Homo sapiens: one gene and its partner. The protein of the gene in region 2 purifies or fractionates together with the protein of the main gene of each other region. This does not show direct contact. Each region holds a gene or a part of one and is shown on either strand. Other genes may lie near its edges.

Region 1 (7,938 bases), on a different chromosome or scaffold from region 2:
CAGGCTGGGCGCGGTAGCACTTTGGGAGGCTGAGGTGGGCAGATCACCTGAGGTCAGGAGTTCAAGACCAGCCTATCCAACATAGTGAAACCCCATCTCTACTAAAAATACAAAAAAAGTTAGCCGGGAATGGCAGCGGACACCTGTAATCCCAGCTACTCGGGGGCTAAGGCAGGAGAATTGCTTGAACCTAGGAGACAGAGGTTGCAGTGAGCCAAGATTGTGCCACTGCACCCCATCCTGGGCAATAGAATGAGACTCTGTTTCAAAAATAAATAAATAAAACCATCATATTCAGCTAAACCACCTGACCTAAATAACCTATCTATTCATCAAATGTAGAGAATAACTGAGAAATAGGCTTTAATCAATTTTCATTATTTGGAAGGCAGCTATGCTTACCACTATACCACCAATGCCACCTTCCTTTTATTAAATAAATACTATGAACTAAGTTATTGACCACTAGGGTATAAAAACATCCTTACTTTTCTTCTTGAATTTATAAAAATAAGTTTTTATTTTTGCCTTATCTAGTAGCAAACATAAAACTATCCTGACTTAAAAAGCCAACATTGTTCTTTCTCCTATTTTTTCCTTGGATCACAAGTTCATATACAGTCAAGCAAGCACCCCAAAAATCCCAGAATTGAAAACAGGTGTATTCCCTTCAGAAAAATCAAAGCTAGAATGTTTAGCTATTAAAGTGTTTCTCTCCAGACTGAGATCAAGTGACTTCACTGCAGTGGCTCAAGAGTGGCTGACTCCCTCCTTCCAAATCAGCCCATCATAGAACACCTATTGCTAAATAGCAAAAGCCAGAGGCTTAGACTGGATCCCTCATAATTGGAGACTTCAAAGTGTTCAGAACTTCAAGCCTGGCCTTTGAAGTAAAATCTTTTTTTTTTTTTTAAGTACAATTGCAATTTTTTTATTTTTCTCCAGAGGCTAGTTTTTCTTCAGTCCTTAAGAACTCTGCTCCTTATATGGGCTTCGGTGGCAGTCATGGGGCAGCACCGCAGGTCTACAGTGGGGTGGAGGTGTTCGGTCCTTGCGGGCTTCATGACCTTGATTTCTGGCGGTCGTGGGGCAGCACCCGCAGGTCTACAGTGGGGGGAAGGTGTTCGATCCTTGTGGGCTTCATGACCTTGATTCCTGACTACCGTGCTGTGAATGGCACAACTCACACAGTAATGTAGCTTCACATCCAGCCTGGGAAGTACACAGGCATCTAGGACGCTCACTTCAGAAATATCGCTGACTGCCGCAGCCTCTACATTTCAAGCATTTCAAGTGATGAATTTCTTTTCTTTTTTTTTTTTTTTTTTTGAGACGGAGTCTCACTCTTGCCCAGGCTGGAGTGCAGTGGCGTGATCTCGGCTCACTGCAAGCTCTGCCTCCCGGGTTCACGCCATTCTCCTGCCTCAGCCTCCCGAGTAGCTGGGACTACAGGCGCCCGCCACCACGCCCAACTAATTTTTTTGTGTTTTTAGTAGAGACAGGGTTTCACCGTGTTAGCCAGGATGGTCTCAATCTCCTGACTTCGTGATCCGCCCGCCTCAGCCTCCCAAAGTGCTGGGATTACAGGCGTGAGCCACCGCGCCCGGCCTATGATGAATTTCTTAATAAGCCTTGTCATTGGGCACACAATGGGCACAGTTTATGCAGCAAATTGGCTGCAGTGAATAGCGTACACCTGGTTGCGGCCCTCTTTGGTGTGACCATTGTTTCTTCTTTTCTTTGTCATCTTGGAGGTACAGGCCCAAGAAAGATGAAGTAAAAATCTTAATTTGAGGGTGACTAAATGAGTGCTTCAAGACCACTTACCCCAAATCCACATTCTGCAAGACAGTTCAAGAAAAAAGGCAAAGTAGCCGTCTACCTCAAGGCTATGGGCTCCACAGTACTTAGCACAGCTGTACCCAAATGTAAACACTTCCCATGGCGTGCTTCTTCCCTGTCTCCCAGGTTAGTCACAATGATGCCAAGGTGCTCTGTCATTGACATTCTCATCCTTTAAGAATTTCAGGCTGGGTGTGGTGGCTCATGCCTGTAATTTCACCAGCTTGGGAGGCCAAGGCAGGAGGATCACTTGAGCCCAGGAGTTTAAGAACAGTCTGGGCAACATAGCGAAACGCTGTCTCCATAAAAAATTTTAAAAATTAGCTGAGAGTGGTGGTACACACCTGTGGCCCCAGCTATTTGGGAGGCTGAGGCAGAGGGGTCAAGGCTGCAGTGAGCCATAACTGTACCACTGTACTCCTCCAGCCTGGGCAACAGAGTTAAGACCCTATCTCCATAAAAAAAAAAAAAACAAAAACAAAAAAAAAACGCATTTCAAACAATAACAGCAGTTTAATTCTTCCTTTGGAATCTAGGTAAAACTGGTCTTCTCTATAAAGTCTACTATGTTCTGGTCTCATTTCAAAAAGTATAAACACACTGAAGTTAAAACGTGAAATATTAAGAATAAAAGATTCAAAAAGTAGCAGTTGGGGGATGAGTATTCCAAGGTTTGAGTATAAGATTGGCTGTGAGACTATACAGGTAGGTTGAGCTCAGACTATAGAATACCTGACAGAACTGTTAAAAATAATCTAGACTGAGACTGGGCGTGGTGGCTCATGCCTGTAATCCCAGCTCTTTGGGAGGCTTGAGGCAGGCAGATCACCTGAGGTCAGGAGTTCAAGACCAGCCTGACCAATATGATGAAACTCCGTCTCTACTAAACATACAAAAATTAGCTGGGCGTGGTGGCGGGCGCCTATAATCCCAGCTATTTGGGAGGCTGAGGCAGGAGAATTACTTGAACCTGGGAGATGGAGGTTGCAGTGAGCCGAGATCGCACCAATACACTCCAGCCTGAGTAACAGTGAGAGATTCTGTCTCAAAAATAAATAAATAAATAAATAAATATAATCTAGACTGTTTTCAGTATGGACAATGATGCTTATTTACAAACAGCAATAAAACCAAGGGTGGCTGTGTTTTCCACTCCCTAAGCAGTCCATTAAGTGACAAATCAGGAAATTAAAAATGGCACACACAAAAAGCAATGAAACCTAGAAGCCCAGGTGAATCTTATGTCTCTTCCATCTTCTTGTTTTTAAGGGACAGGGATCTTACTGTGTTGCCCAGGCTGGAGTGCAGTGGCGATCATGGCTCACTGCAACCTCAAACTCTCATGCTCAAGCAATCTTCTGCCTCAGCCTCCTAAGTAGCTGGGACTATCAATGCATACTACCACACCTGGCTAATTTTTAAATTTTTAGTAGAGACGAGGTCTGGCTATGTTGCCCAGGCTGGTCTCAAACTCCTGGGCACAAGCAATCCTCCTGCCTTGGGCCTCCCTAAATTCTCATTACAGATGTAAGCCACCGTGCCCAGCCTCTTCCATCTTCCTATACCTTTAGCAATCAATCTGGTGGCCCAGTGCTATCAGCCATCTAGTAGGATCTTTATTTTTATTTTTATATATTTTTTGAGACAGAGTCTCACTCTGTTGCCCAGGCTGGAGTGCAGTGGCATGATCTCGGCTCACTGCATCCTCCACCTCCCAGGTTCAAGTGATTCTCCTGCCTCAGCCTCCCAAGTAGCTGTGACTACCAGCAACGCCACCATGCCTGGCTAATTTTTGTATTTTTAGTGGAGACGGGGTTTCACCATGTTGGCCAGGCTGGTCTCGAACTCCTGGCCACAAGTGATCCCCCAACCTCTGCCTCCCAAAATGCTGGGATTACAGGCTTGAGCCACCACGCCCGGACTAGTAAGATCTTATATGGAAAGTTTTTCTCCTCTCCAAGCAGCCTTAGGGAGATAGGCTTGTTCTGACCCATATCTCACTAGATATTTATGAGAAAAAGTGTCTCACCATATCCTTACACATAATCAGCATTTTTGTCTGCTACAGTCCCAGTCATTTCCTACCTTTGGCCAGTTTCAACATGCAGCAGCCTTTTGCACTGAATCTACATTGTGTGTACTGGCATGACATCAGCTGTCCTGTTCCTAGCAGGGTCTGGGAGGAGGAGACTTACAATGGTGCTTTGAGTCACAACAAAACCCCTTCCTCTCTATTTAGGATTTCTGACATTTTTTCCTTCCACTTAAAATTCTTCTTCCCATTTAAATAAAACAAATTTTTAAATTAAAACCATAAAGGGGAAAGAAGGAGTTGGCAGGACTAAAGGTCTAAAAACTTGAGAGGGAAGAGAGTTAAGAAACGTTATAAAACTGCTTTGTGGTTACATCTCTTGCCAACTGGTTTCACTGTTAAAGTAGAGCTAAAGCTCATGCACAGAGAAGTGTTGTAGCTTTACACATCGTCAAAAACTCGCACAACTTCAAACATGACCCGCAAACATTCAAGAACTTTTCTAATTCTAAGTAGAAAAGTGACTGGCACTGCAAGTCATGGGAAGGGATTGACAATATCACATCTAATATAACTGAAGACTACAGGATGAGTTATTTTTTATCTCAGAAAGAATGCTTAATATTATTATATTACTTTCCAAACATAGGGACTTGGGCCAAATATTTAGCTTAAAAAAAATCCAGCTTTCCCATCTAGGTGGAATCTAGAGTAACAGATGGTTTTGCTCCCCATCAGGTCTGTTTATTTCATTATAACGACTGTTGTAACGAACCATCCCCATGTACAAAGCCAGATATATAGGAAAGTATGAGAAAACTGGAAAAATTTACCAGCTCTGTGGCCTCTGGATTGTGTTATAAATCACCAGCATATGTAACTCATTTTCTAGTTAAGTAATTCCCTCTGGGGACGAGGTCTGCAATCCACATGAAGGATCAAATTTCATTAGCAGTTGTAGGAAAACGCAACCCTGTGCATTTGCAAGTCAAAACTCCCGAAAGCTATAGCTAGTCTGGCTATCTTCATTGATTTTGCCTGAGAGAGGATTTTAGCTGATAGAAAACATTTGTTGGAAGGCACAGATGAGGAAGTTGAGAAGAAGAGAAGGGATTCAGCTAGCAGAGACAAGTAAGCCTCAGTCTTAATGTTAAACTCCGGCCTTAACACTCAGTCTGCAGCTGTGTCCAAGCAGAGAGCTATTCAGCAGTAATTCCACCCCCAAAGCTACAAATGATAAAGAACACAGGAAGACAATTTAAAAGGGCAAGTGTACAAAAACACATAATCCAATCGGTATTAAACTCTCTTCATTTCTAGATACCAATTTGAATCCCAGTGTGAACCTGATTTAACATGAAATTGTGTCAGAGACTCACAAATCTTAGCATCTATGTAAATAATGCATTTGAGACTATTAACTTATCTAACTGGAATCAAAAGACATACTGACCACATATTCGCCTCTACTCAAAATAGCTAGATTGGAAAAACAGCTTTGTTTAGTGCTTGAATTGGCTTTCTCAAGTTTCAAACCCGCCCAATTCTTACCTTAGTTTGAGTTGGTTCACCTTTCTCAAACATCATCTTAAGCCTGTTCAGCGGAACATTATATTTCTCTATTTTGCCCGAAGCATCTGTGTTTTCACTGATTTCTGATTTTTCTACTTCATGCCTGGATTCTCCTAGACAATTTTCCATTTTTTTACTTTCTGTTGAGTGGTCTTTAAGATCCTCACCGTCCTTGATGTGGGGATATCGACCCTGAACGAGGGCTTCAGGAGGTGACCTGAGTCTAGATCTGGGGTGGATTTGTTCTTCTTGGTCAGCTTTGGCTCCAGAAGCAGCGTGGCTTGTCACTTCAGCAGGAGGATGGTCTGCTCTGTGCCTAATCTCAGTGCTGCTGTTCCGTAGAGAGTCTGTGTGAGACTCTGCTCCCAGCCCTGGGTTCTCCCACTTCTTCTTTAACACAGTCAGGGTCCCCTTTCTAAAGTGCTGGGAGAGATTTTCGGTGTTCTAGAAGAACAAGAAGTAGATGCCAGTTATAACTTGCCTGCTGAAACATTCAAACATGTTGTTCTTTGTAAAATGAAAGTTAAAACTCCAAGCTGCTCCTGGTCCACTGCTGTTTCAGACAGCTGTGAACAGTTACAGCCTTGCCACATGGAGAAAGCATCCACCCGGCAGAGGGAGAGGGAGAGGGGAAGAGAGAAAAACTCAGGAGCTGAAGCAGGAAGTGATAAAACAGGATGGCCTTATAAGGACAAAATGAGAAGAAAGGCAAACCCAGCTCTAATGATAGTTACATGCGAAACAAGAGATTTTTACCCAAAGATTAATGGGGAAAAAAACAAGAAAGAAAAAGCAAAATACAAGTGCTTGAAACACTGTAACTACACATCAGCAAAGTTCATCATTACCTGCCATAAAATAACATGGTAAATTCTGCTGGGTTTTTTTTTCTTCTTTTAAATAAGACAAAGATGCAGGATAGTTGCAGGATAGCTGAAACTATACCATTAATTACGGATAGTGGCAGCAAGGATTGAAACAATTTGTAGAACCCTGGAGAAGTCCCCAGACTTTCCAAGTATTTGCATAAATATTTAGTTATATCTGACATAATTTACATGCATATGAGCAGTCAAATTTTATTTTTCATAAGAATTTAATCTTTTTTTTTTCCCTGCTCTTCTCTACAAGTTTATCTGTGTATAAATTCTCACTTATCAGGGCCAGGCACGGTGGCTCACGCCTGTAATCCCAGCACTTTGGGAGGCCGAGGCCGGCGGATCACAAGGTCAGGAGTTTGAGACCAGCCAGACCAACATGGAGAAACCCTGTCTCTAAAAAAAATACAAAAATTAACTGGGTGCAGTGGTGCACACCCATAGTCCCAGCTACTCTGGAGGCTGAGGCAGGAGAATCGCTTGAACCTGGGAAGTGGAGGTTGCAGTGAGCCAAGACTGCGCCACTACACTCCAGCCTGGGTGACAAAGTGAGACGCCATCCCCCAACCAAAAAAAAAAAAAAAATTCTCAGTTATCAAGAAATTCACTGTTTTACAGATCCTCTGGTTGTAAAATATGCAGGCTTCAAATGCAAATACCACTACTTATCACTCAGATGATCAAAGGACACACATTTACATATCTAAGAGAGTTCACTTTCACTAGGGCCAAAAATGGAATTAATTTATACATGTAAGACAGACTGAAAACAACCTGGAAATTGTCACTGTTGTTCCATAATAGAGGAAACACGCTTGTTGAAAATTAAATGTCCCGGCTGGGCGCAGTGGCTCATGCCTGTAATCCCAGCACTTTGGGAGGCCGAGGCGGGTGGATCACCTGAGGTCAGGAGTTCGTGGCCAGCCCGGCCAACACCGTGAAACCACGTCTCTACTAAAAATACAAAAAATAGCTGGGCGTGGTGGCACGCGCCTGTAGTCCCAGCTACTCAGGAGGCTGAGGCAGAAAAATGGCTTGAACCTGGGAGGCGGAGGTTGCAGTGAGCCCAAATCGCGCCACTGCACTCCAGTCCGGGTGACAGAGTGAGACTCTGTCTCAAAAAAAAAAAGAAAAATTAAATTAAATTAAATGTCCCGTACTTTGAAAGGACTGTACTCCTAAATAAATTGAACAGCACCACCTTCCCAACAAACTGCAAACTCCAATACCTTCTCTCCTGTAGTCTGTGACTCACCAGTCTTTCAACTAAGAAAGAAAGGACAAACAACCTAGGAATTAAACAGGATTAGCAGCTATTTTGGGAATTAAGTCTCTCACCCTATTACTCTTCTGAATATACTCTTGAAAGCCACTTCATCAAGTAGAAATAAGGCTTGAAAAGAAATTATAGAACTGCTTGATTCTAGTGTTTAAATTTTAGCTTACAAAATGATCCATTGGGGGAAGAATGTATGCATCAGAGATATAAGAAGCTTAAAAAGTTTTCTTGCTGGAAAAGAAGGAATTACAGAACAGCTCCAGAAGCTGGTTCTACCCTAACTGCCAGCAGCACTCTTGGCTCTGTAAGGTCTCGTGCCACACAATGGATGAGTC
Region 2 (8,809 bases):
ATACATGACATACAAACATGTATATACATACACAAACATACATACATTTACACCACAAAATTTTCTTCTTATTCAAACATGCACATGAGGAAAATGAATAAATAACCTATGTTATAGCAGAAAACAGAAAACCAGTTCGGACCTCTGAAACACTGGATAGTCCATGCCTTATAGTTTATACATGTTCTGAATGAATATGGCTGTCTTAAAGTTTTTGTTTTAAATATTTCATAACAAGTGAAGAAGCCAGCAAGACTGTCTGGTATCACAGTGACTAATCTTAAGCACCCTTGGTCTCGTAATGTGATTGTCAGGAATTACTGAGGGATAAGGGGTGGGAACAGGTGAGTGGAGGTCATTCAGCTTGAGCCTCCTTACTTGAAAAGACTTCAAAATGTGGCTGCTACTCACTGGGTAATTGGTTTAGGCAGTGAAGTGAGGCCTGGTTATATATGTCCATTTCAGACCTGCATATTTTTGTTACATTGCTTCTGATTACAGAGATTATAGCTCTGTAATCTATAAGTTAGGTCAACCCAGTCTTCCCTGAGATACAATGAAAATTCTTTGATCAACACACTATTCCTGAATACTATAAAAATGAACGTTTCAATTACAAGCACATTTCTAATGTGCAGCTGCACCATGCAAGCAACTGCTTTTTGTATATATTTTTATAGCTTTATTATGCATTTAGAATGTCTTATTTTCTGCATTTCATATTAATCTTTCCATTTTAAAATTTATGATCAACACATAATTGTACATATTTATGGGTGTACTATGTGATGTTTCAATACATGTATACATAGTGTAGTGATCAAATCAGGGTAATTAGGATATCCCTCTCCTTAAACATTTATGATTTCCTTGTGATAAGAACAGTCTTTCAATATTTCTTGTTTATGTATTTTGAATGTGTTCTTGTAAAATACACCGTGTGTTTTATTCCCTTGCTTTCAGACCATGATCTATCTTCTTTTTCTCAGACCTGTGATTTTTTAAAATTACCCAAAACACACATTTTCAGTTGCAATTTACAAAAAAGAGATAACTAATGTTCAATTACACATGAAATTAAGAAAATTAAGCAAAAAGATAATTAGTACACATAAATGGTATAGAGAATTAAAGTCTGGGGTTTCATAAAATTTCATTTTACTAATAATTTGATTACCATTCATTCAAAATCTGACATGTAATCACAGGTCGAATCTACTGTTCCCTAATTCCTCAAAAATCTAAAATTGGCCCAGGCTGCGCCAAGGGCCTGGGGACTGCAGAACCCTTCAGGGAGATGATGTGCTTCACCACTTCCTGCCTGCCATTTGATCTTCCCATGTTCCTAAACCTTTAATATTTCAAAGAATTCTTATTTCCTTCAATCCCTCTTCTTATTTGTACACAGGATGTAAAAGAGCTAATGACACCTGTTGTAATGAGCTCTCTGCAGGAGTGTCCTATGAATCTGACGGATGTGAATTCTGGGGGTAACTATGGAGTTCTAGTGACTACACAGAGACAAAGTAGGTGCATCTGCCATGTTTTTTCCTTCCAGGTACTTTTTTTTTTTTTTCTCAGAAATGTTGTTTGGAGTTGAGCACTTGATTTCAGGTCTAAAAATAATTTGTATTTTCTCTCTTTAAGATGAAAAGATCTAAGCAGATCAATGCCCTGAACTAGATAACCTTCTCCAAATTTTATATAATGTAGCATGCTGTGTGGGTAGCTCTCTTTGCTGTTAGCTGGAATCTGTTCTGGCAATGGATATGTATGCTCATTTTAATATTAGGCAAAGGCCAATGGTATATCCCACTGAGAAAGTAAACATAAAAGAAATGATGCTACACACACACACACACACACACACACACACACACACACATATATATATATTTTTTTTGAGACGGAGTGTCGCACTATCAATCACCTGGGCTTGGGGTGCAGTGGCAGGATCTCGGCTCATTGCAACCTCCACCTCCCAGGTTCAAGCAATTCTCCTGCCTCAGCCTCCCAAGTAGCTGGAATTACAGGCACCTGCCACCACGCCCAGCTAATTTTTTTGTATTTTTAATAGAGACGGGGTTTCACCATGTTGGCCAGGCTGGTCTCGAACTCCTGACCTCATGATTCGCCCACCTTGGCCTCCCAAAGTGCTGGGATTACAGGCGTGAGCCACCATGCCTGGCCAAAATGATGCTATGCTATAAAACTAAATAATTTGAAAATTCTTTTATTTAAACAAATCATATCTGTGGTTATACCCTGCCATTGATTAGAAACAATGTAATACAGAGAAGCTTGTAACAGCTAAAAAAAGAAAAAAAAGCAGTTTCATCTGTTTCAATAAATTTTTATTGAGCACCTATGTTGTCCTAGTGTTGGGAACAGAATAGAAAAGGCAGATAAAAAAATCCCTGCCCTGATGGAGTTACATTCTAGTCCTTGAGACTAAAGGTCAGACAGCAGCAAAAAAAAAGGTATACATTATAATACCTTTAGTCTGTAGAAAAACTGTTGCAACAATATTCATTGAAGCAGTTTTTAGCTAAATAATGTATCAGGTTACATGGTGATTTGACGTCTTGTTCCCTAGGTAAAGGAATGACCATGGTAACCCCAAAGCGAGAAATATTAAGAACACGAGTCAGTCACTCAAACATTTTCTAAGTGCTGACACTGAAGATATAGAAAGCAAGATATAAGGCAAGCTCTACCCTCCAGCTGCTTACAGTCTAGTGAAGGAGACAGATGAATGATATTCACACACACACACACCCCCACACACCCACCCACACACACACCATTGGGAACATGGAGAGTCTGGAGGAAATGGTGGAGTTTGGGCATAGTGAATCAGGAAAGGTGTTCCGAAAAAAAGTTAAACCTAAACTGAATCTAAAGGAATAAATGTGTAGGTACAGTCAGGTAAAACAGGGAAAAGTACGGTGTATTAGAAAAACTATTAGGAGTAAGCAAAAGACAACAGTGTGTAAACTAGAAAATGATGGTGAACGTGTGGAAATGTATGATTTGCGTTGGATAACTAGTAGAAGGGACAGGAGAGGCAAGAAGGGGCCAGATCTATCAAAAGTTTAATAATTTGCATTTTAGGAAGATAATTTTCCATCATTATGGTGGGTAGCTTTTGAGCAAGATGAATGAAAGTGGAGGAACGAAATTTGAGGCCACTGCAATAGTCAAAATAACAACAAAAAAAAAGGTCTAAAGTAGAATGGTTGTAATTATAAGAATGTGAAATATATTGGTGAGGCACAGTTGATAGAGAATGAATAACTGTATCTGGGGCAATGGGTGAACGCTGAAAATTGGCATTGACATAAAAACTTGTTACCTTATCTTCACAGTACCACACTCTTATAACTATATATAACTATATAAACCATATGTAATTTCATTCCTTAGCCAGGAGTCCCTTTTACTTGATAGCTCAGGGGACCATTAACACATATGTGTTTTGCTGCATATAAAGAAGTAAATGTCTATTTGGATACTCCTGGATTATACACTTTACCATCTATGGTCAACTTTTTACCCTTTATCTACATTACCATCACTTGGCCATTATACAACAGCAGCTCTGTGTAAGCAGAGTAAATGCAAGAAAAAATATACTTTCACATTGGAATGTTTGGCCCACACAAAAATCTAAATACGCAGGCCAAGTTTTGTTATGCTAAATCAATTCAATGAGGGTTTAAGAAATAGGTATCTTACAATCTCCAGGTAGCAAAAACAAAATTCCAGTGGGTGGTCCAATAACACAAACAGAAAGCATCATATTCAAATAGAGCTAAAGAATATCAATAGCCCCTAGACACCTTTATTGAAATGGAATCTGATTGCTAACCATGAAAATAAAACAATCTCATTCCCATTAAGAATTTTTTTAAGTGAGGATTTTATTATTAAGCAGTACCTATAATTGATATTGTAAATTTCACAAGTAGAAATCTTGAGGTGGCTCATAGTCAATGCATGTATTGTTTTTGAATTGCCTTGATTTTAACACCCTGTGGTAGGAATAATTTGCTTTCTACTTAGGAGGACTGCTTTCTGTTTCCCATTTGTAAGAGGCTTTAAGAAAAGCATAAACTCAAGTCCTAAAGCAGGCTGAGGCAACCATATCCTTAGAACACTTCTCACCACAGCGTGATTCTTCACATAGCAGGGCTTGCACACGGGCTTGTCATTGACCATCACGTATATCTCCCCAGCTAGAATGCTATCACAGTCAAAGCAGCAGAAGTGTTTCAGGTGCCAATTCTGGTTTTCTGCCTGGGTATACTCATTGCTGAATATCAGCTAGGAAGAAGATAAAAATAAAGATGGATTTTTATATAATAAGAGATTTATATCTGTAACAACATACTTTCTCAGGGTCTAAAGTTTGAAAATGATAACCTAAAGCTTGAACTTATGCTATCACTTAGTTTAGTCTAAATCAATCTTTTATATTTCTAGTCTTTCATTTGTCAACCCAATTAACACAGACAGAATGAATGATATCAGAAGTTTATTTTTTAAAACTTCTTTGGATGTAAACAGAGCAACTGCTGTTTGGTCAAGTCTTGTTGCCTTCTAGGTAAAGGGACCATATGAGGGTCTAAGAGGGCACCAGCATGCCGGTGGTCCCATAGAACATACCTCGTCACAGCCAGCACATCGGGGTTTCTCGCTGTCACAGTAATGTCTGCCACAGTATAGCTTCTCATTCTTCCAAAAATAAATCATGTCAACCAGGAGTTCATGGCAGGTGCTGCAGACAAAACAAGCTGGGTGCCACAGTTTATCATAGCCAGCCCTTTCGGCATAGATGGCTGGGTCACCTTCTTTCATACTCAGTTTGCAGCAATAGCAGGACTGAAAGGGAAGCCATCCAGAACAACCTAGTCATTAGAAGACTGCCATTTCTTTTCTTTCTTTCTTTTTTTTTTTTTGAGACTGAGTCTCACTCTGTCGCCCAGGCTGGAGTCCAGTGGTGCTATCTCGGCTCATTGCAAGCTCCGCCTCCTGGGTTCACGCCGTTCTCCTGCCTCAGCCTCCCGAGTAGCTGGGACTACAGGCGCCTGCCACCACGCCCGGCTAATTTTTTTGTATTTTTAGTAGAGACGGGGTTTCACCGTGTTAGCCAGGATGGTCTCAATCTCCTGACCTCGTGATTCACCCGCCTCAGCCTCCCAAAGTGCTGGGATTACAGGCGTGAGCCACTGTGCCCAGCTAAGACTGCCATTTCTTATCATTGACTTCAGTAGAAATTCAGAGAAACAACTTTGAAGAGACATAATTTCTACTGAAATTACAAATTTGTCGATGTAGATAATAACGTATTAATAATTCTGTGAAATGGAATCTCAGCTTTCTCCCGGCTATTCAAATCTACTTCATTCACCCTGTGTGTAACAGGCATTATTTCCTGAATTAAGGTCACTTATGGAAAAAGGAAAATAGTAATTTTCAGGTCAATTTTAAGTAGATTCTCTAAAACTATCACCTCAGGGCTTATTAGTGCTCTTTTTTCAGGACTAAGCCTTATTGGTTGGTGTGCTAACTGGAGCTATGAGGAATATATTACAGCAGGTTTAGTTCTTATGTCTGTTCATCTGTGTCATAATTGCCTCCTACCATCAAGTCATTAGCAAAATACTTCAATTTCTCCCTTTAGAAGAGACTTAAAAAAAAGCTTCACTATATATCCACAAAAATTAAATTTAAGTTTGAATTTTAGGCACGTTCTCACAAGCAAAACTGAATTAACCTAAGCATATATTCCTATTTATGGGCAGCAGAGATAAGCAATTAATACCAACATTATGATTAGAAACAGACTATAGAATAATAATGCTGTCTTTGATCAGCATGCCAATACCAACTACTGTCTGTACATAAAACTCACTATCCACAATTATCCTTGATAATAAATACATAGAAAATTTGGCTTTAGACAGAAGTTTCAAACACGATGACCCTCTGTGGGAAGTCTAAACTGAATCTAAATCCTATTTATTCCCCATACTTATTCCCTTTTGGAAACTCAGAGGAATAGTCCCCAAAAAAGTTCAAAGTAAGGGAAAAAAATTCTGTAAAGTATACAAATCAGGCTAACAGTGTGACCACTCTACTTACATATTGAGTTCTTTTGTGCTCAGCAGATTTGTCCTCCATGGCCCCCACTGCTGCTGGGGTGCTTCTATCCCCTCCAGGAATGTTCATTTGTTTGGGGCCTTGGGCATCCATCTCACAGGGAAGTTTGACATCTCCTACTCCCAGAGCTTCGCTCTTATATTTCTTCACAAACTGCTCCATCTCCTTCACCTCTCTGGGAGACAACTCATGGCACTTTGAAGGGTCCTGGTCATGTGCAGGGAGCTGCTTTGCCAGCTGCTTCTTCCGGTACTGTGCCCCCTCTGAGCCTGCTACTGGCTGCTTTTCCTTGGGTAGCATCTGCATGTACTGCCTGGCCTGAACCACAAGGAGGCCAATGTTAACTGGGATTGGCCATTAGGCAGTGTGATGTTTCATAACACACATCAGAAGCAAGTTACTTAAGAAAGAAGTGGGTTCTATCCAATAGCAGCAACTCACCCTCACAGTATATTAAGAAGTTAAAACTCAAAAACGGTACACTAAATAGATTTAGTTGGGTAAAAAGTAACACTTTCTCTCCATGAAATTATATATTTTTTCAGTTTGTAAGATCTGAGTTACTACTGTTTACTTAAGCTAAATAAACAAATGTACAATTGAAAGAAAACATAAACTTTTAGGCAGACATGTTTGGAATGGTCTGTAGGACCAGGAACATTTTTATTACATAAAAAATGATATCGCAAAATTCACTTTAATGATTTAACTAACCTTAAAAGACTTCCAAATGTTTCATTTGGTTGTTATAATAGTGGAAGGAGCTTGATATAAAACTGTGATCTTTTTGGTCTTATATAGTATTAATAAAGGAAATGAAAAAAACACAAAGATAATGTTGAATATTTTTTTCAGTTCTAAACTATGACAAAAATTCTCTTCTTTACCATCTTAAGATAAATCCTCTCAAGACTAAGCTAGAAGAGTTACTAGATTGATATAAAACATCTGATTTCCATCTAATTATTAAGAACGTTAGACCATTCCCTCAAAAAGGTAAACATATCTAGGGAGTTGGAAAAATTTTATGAAGTATCTAGTCTTACATTCAAAAGACTAGAACAGGAATCAGAAGTCAAAGTAATGAGAACCCCGGAAGAATAACAGATCTGGGATGTGTGAAGTTGATTAGGTCATCAAAGAAACTGCCCCAAATAAATACTCCAGGAACTTCAATAAAGAAACTCTCTGTTCCATATCATTTACCAATGCTTGATTCTGGACAGGAGGAGCCCACTCATAGGTAACTGTATTGATGGAGACATTCTTCTTGGCAGCAACTGGATTCGTCAATATCATAACATTGCGTTTATACATGGGAATTCCATCTGACTTTAGTTTTGCAATCAGAGTGGTATACTTGGTGTCTTCAAAAAGTTTTCCCACTTTTCGATCCTCTTCATTGCTCAAGAGGACATCATGCTCTTCTTGGCCACACTTGCAGTTACGACATATTTTTCTATAATTTTGAAAATAAGTAGAAAATGATTAATTGTACCTAATTGATATTTATGTTCATACATTTATAGTTCATAAAATACTTTTAGGCCTATTCTATATCATGGTATGCAAAGGCAAGTCCTTTTTTAGGAGGGAGAATAAGTATCCATATATTTAAGCAAGAAGGAAACAAAACACGACTTTGCTTGATAAGGCTTTTAAAAGCTAGGTTGTAAAAATTGAAAGAGGGACCCAATTAAACTGAAGAGCTTCTACAAAGCAAAAGAAACTGGCAACAGGACAAACAGACAACCTATAGAATGGAAGAAAATATTTGCAAATCCTGCAACTGACAAAGGTCTAATATTCAGAATCTATAAGGAACAATTCAACAAGCAAAAGACAACCCCATTAAAAAATGGGCAAAGGACATGAACAGATATTTCTCAAAAGAAGATATACATATGGCCAAAAAATATATGAAAACATGCTCAATATCACTAATCATTAAGGAATGCAAATCAAAACGATGATGAGATGCCATCTTCCATCAGTCGGAATAGCTATTACTAAAAAGTCAAAAAATAACAGATGTTGCGGAGAAAAGGGAATGCTTATACACTGTTGGTGAGAATGTAAATTAGTTCAGCCACTGTGGAAAGCAGTTTGGAGATTTCTCAAAGAACTTAGAACTATCATTCAACCCAGCAATCCCAAAGGAAAATGCATTGTTCCACCAAAAGGACAATGCACCCGTATGTTTATCACAGTAGTATTCACAATAGAAAAGACATGGTGGAATCAACCTAGACGCCCATCAATGGTAGACTGGATAAAGAAAATGTGGAACATATTCACCATAGAATACTATGCAGCCATAAAAAAAGAATGAAATCATGTCCTTTGAAGCAAAATGAATGCAGCTGGAAGTCATTATCTTAAGTGAATTAATACAGGAAAGGAAAACCAAATACCACATATTCTCACTTATAAGTGGGAGCTAAATATTGAGTACACATGGACACAAAGATGGAACTAACAGACACTAGGGAATATTAGAGTGGGGAGGGTGAGAGGGAGAAACGTTTGAAAAGCTAACTCTCAGGTACTATGGTCACTACCTGGGTGATGGGATCATTTATAACCCAAGCCTCAGTAACATGCAATTTACCCATGTAAAACACCTGCACTGCACAGGTACATT

Evidence for each region. Proteins that work in one complex are often made in the same cells at the same time.
Region 1: the proteins of TES (region 2) and LIMA1 purify together in Homo sapiens (affinity purification with mass spectrometry; 2 studies listed by BioGRID and IntAct, with this or other methods). This does not show direct contact.

What each region holds. Positions count from the first base shown.
Region 1 is NC_000012.12:50,216,596-50,224,533, forward strand, and holds part of LIMA1 (LIM domain and actin-binding protein 1), read right to left. Parts: intron 6,064-7,938; exon of another isoform or gene 6,040-6,063; coding exon of another isoform or gene 5,928-6,039; exon of another isoform or gene 5,891-5,927; coding exon 5,426-5,890; intron 1-5,425. UniProt on the Homo sapiens protein: Actin-binding protein involved in actin cytoskeleton regulation and dynamics. Increases the number and size of actin stress fibers and inhibits membrane ruffling. Inhibits actin filament depolymerization.
Region 2 is NC_000007.14:116,247,835-116,256,643, reverse strand, and holds part of TES (testin), read right to left. Parts: intron 7,625-8,809; coding exon 7,372-7,624; intron 6,484-7,371; coding exon 6,148-6,483; intron 4,885-6,147; coding exon 4,669-4,884; intron 4,327-4,668; coding exon 4,168-4,326; intron 1,527-4,167; exon of another isoform or gene 1-1,526. UniProt on the Homo sapiens protein: Scaffold protein that may play a role in cell adhesion, cell spreading and in the reorganization of the actin cytoskeleton. Plays a role in the regulation of cell proliferation. May act as a tumor suppressor. Inhibits tumor cell growth.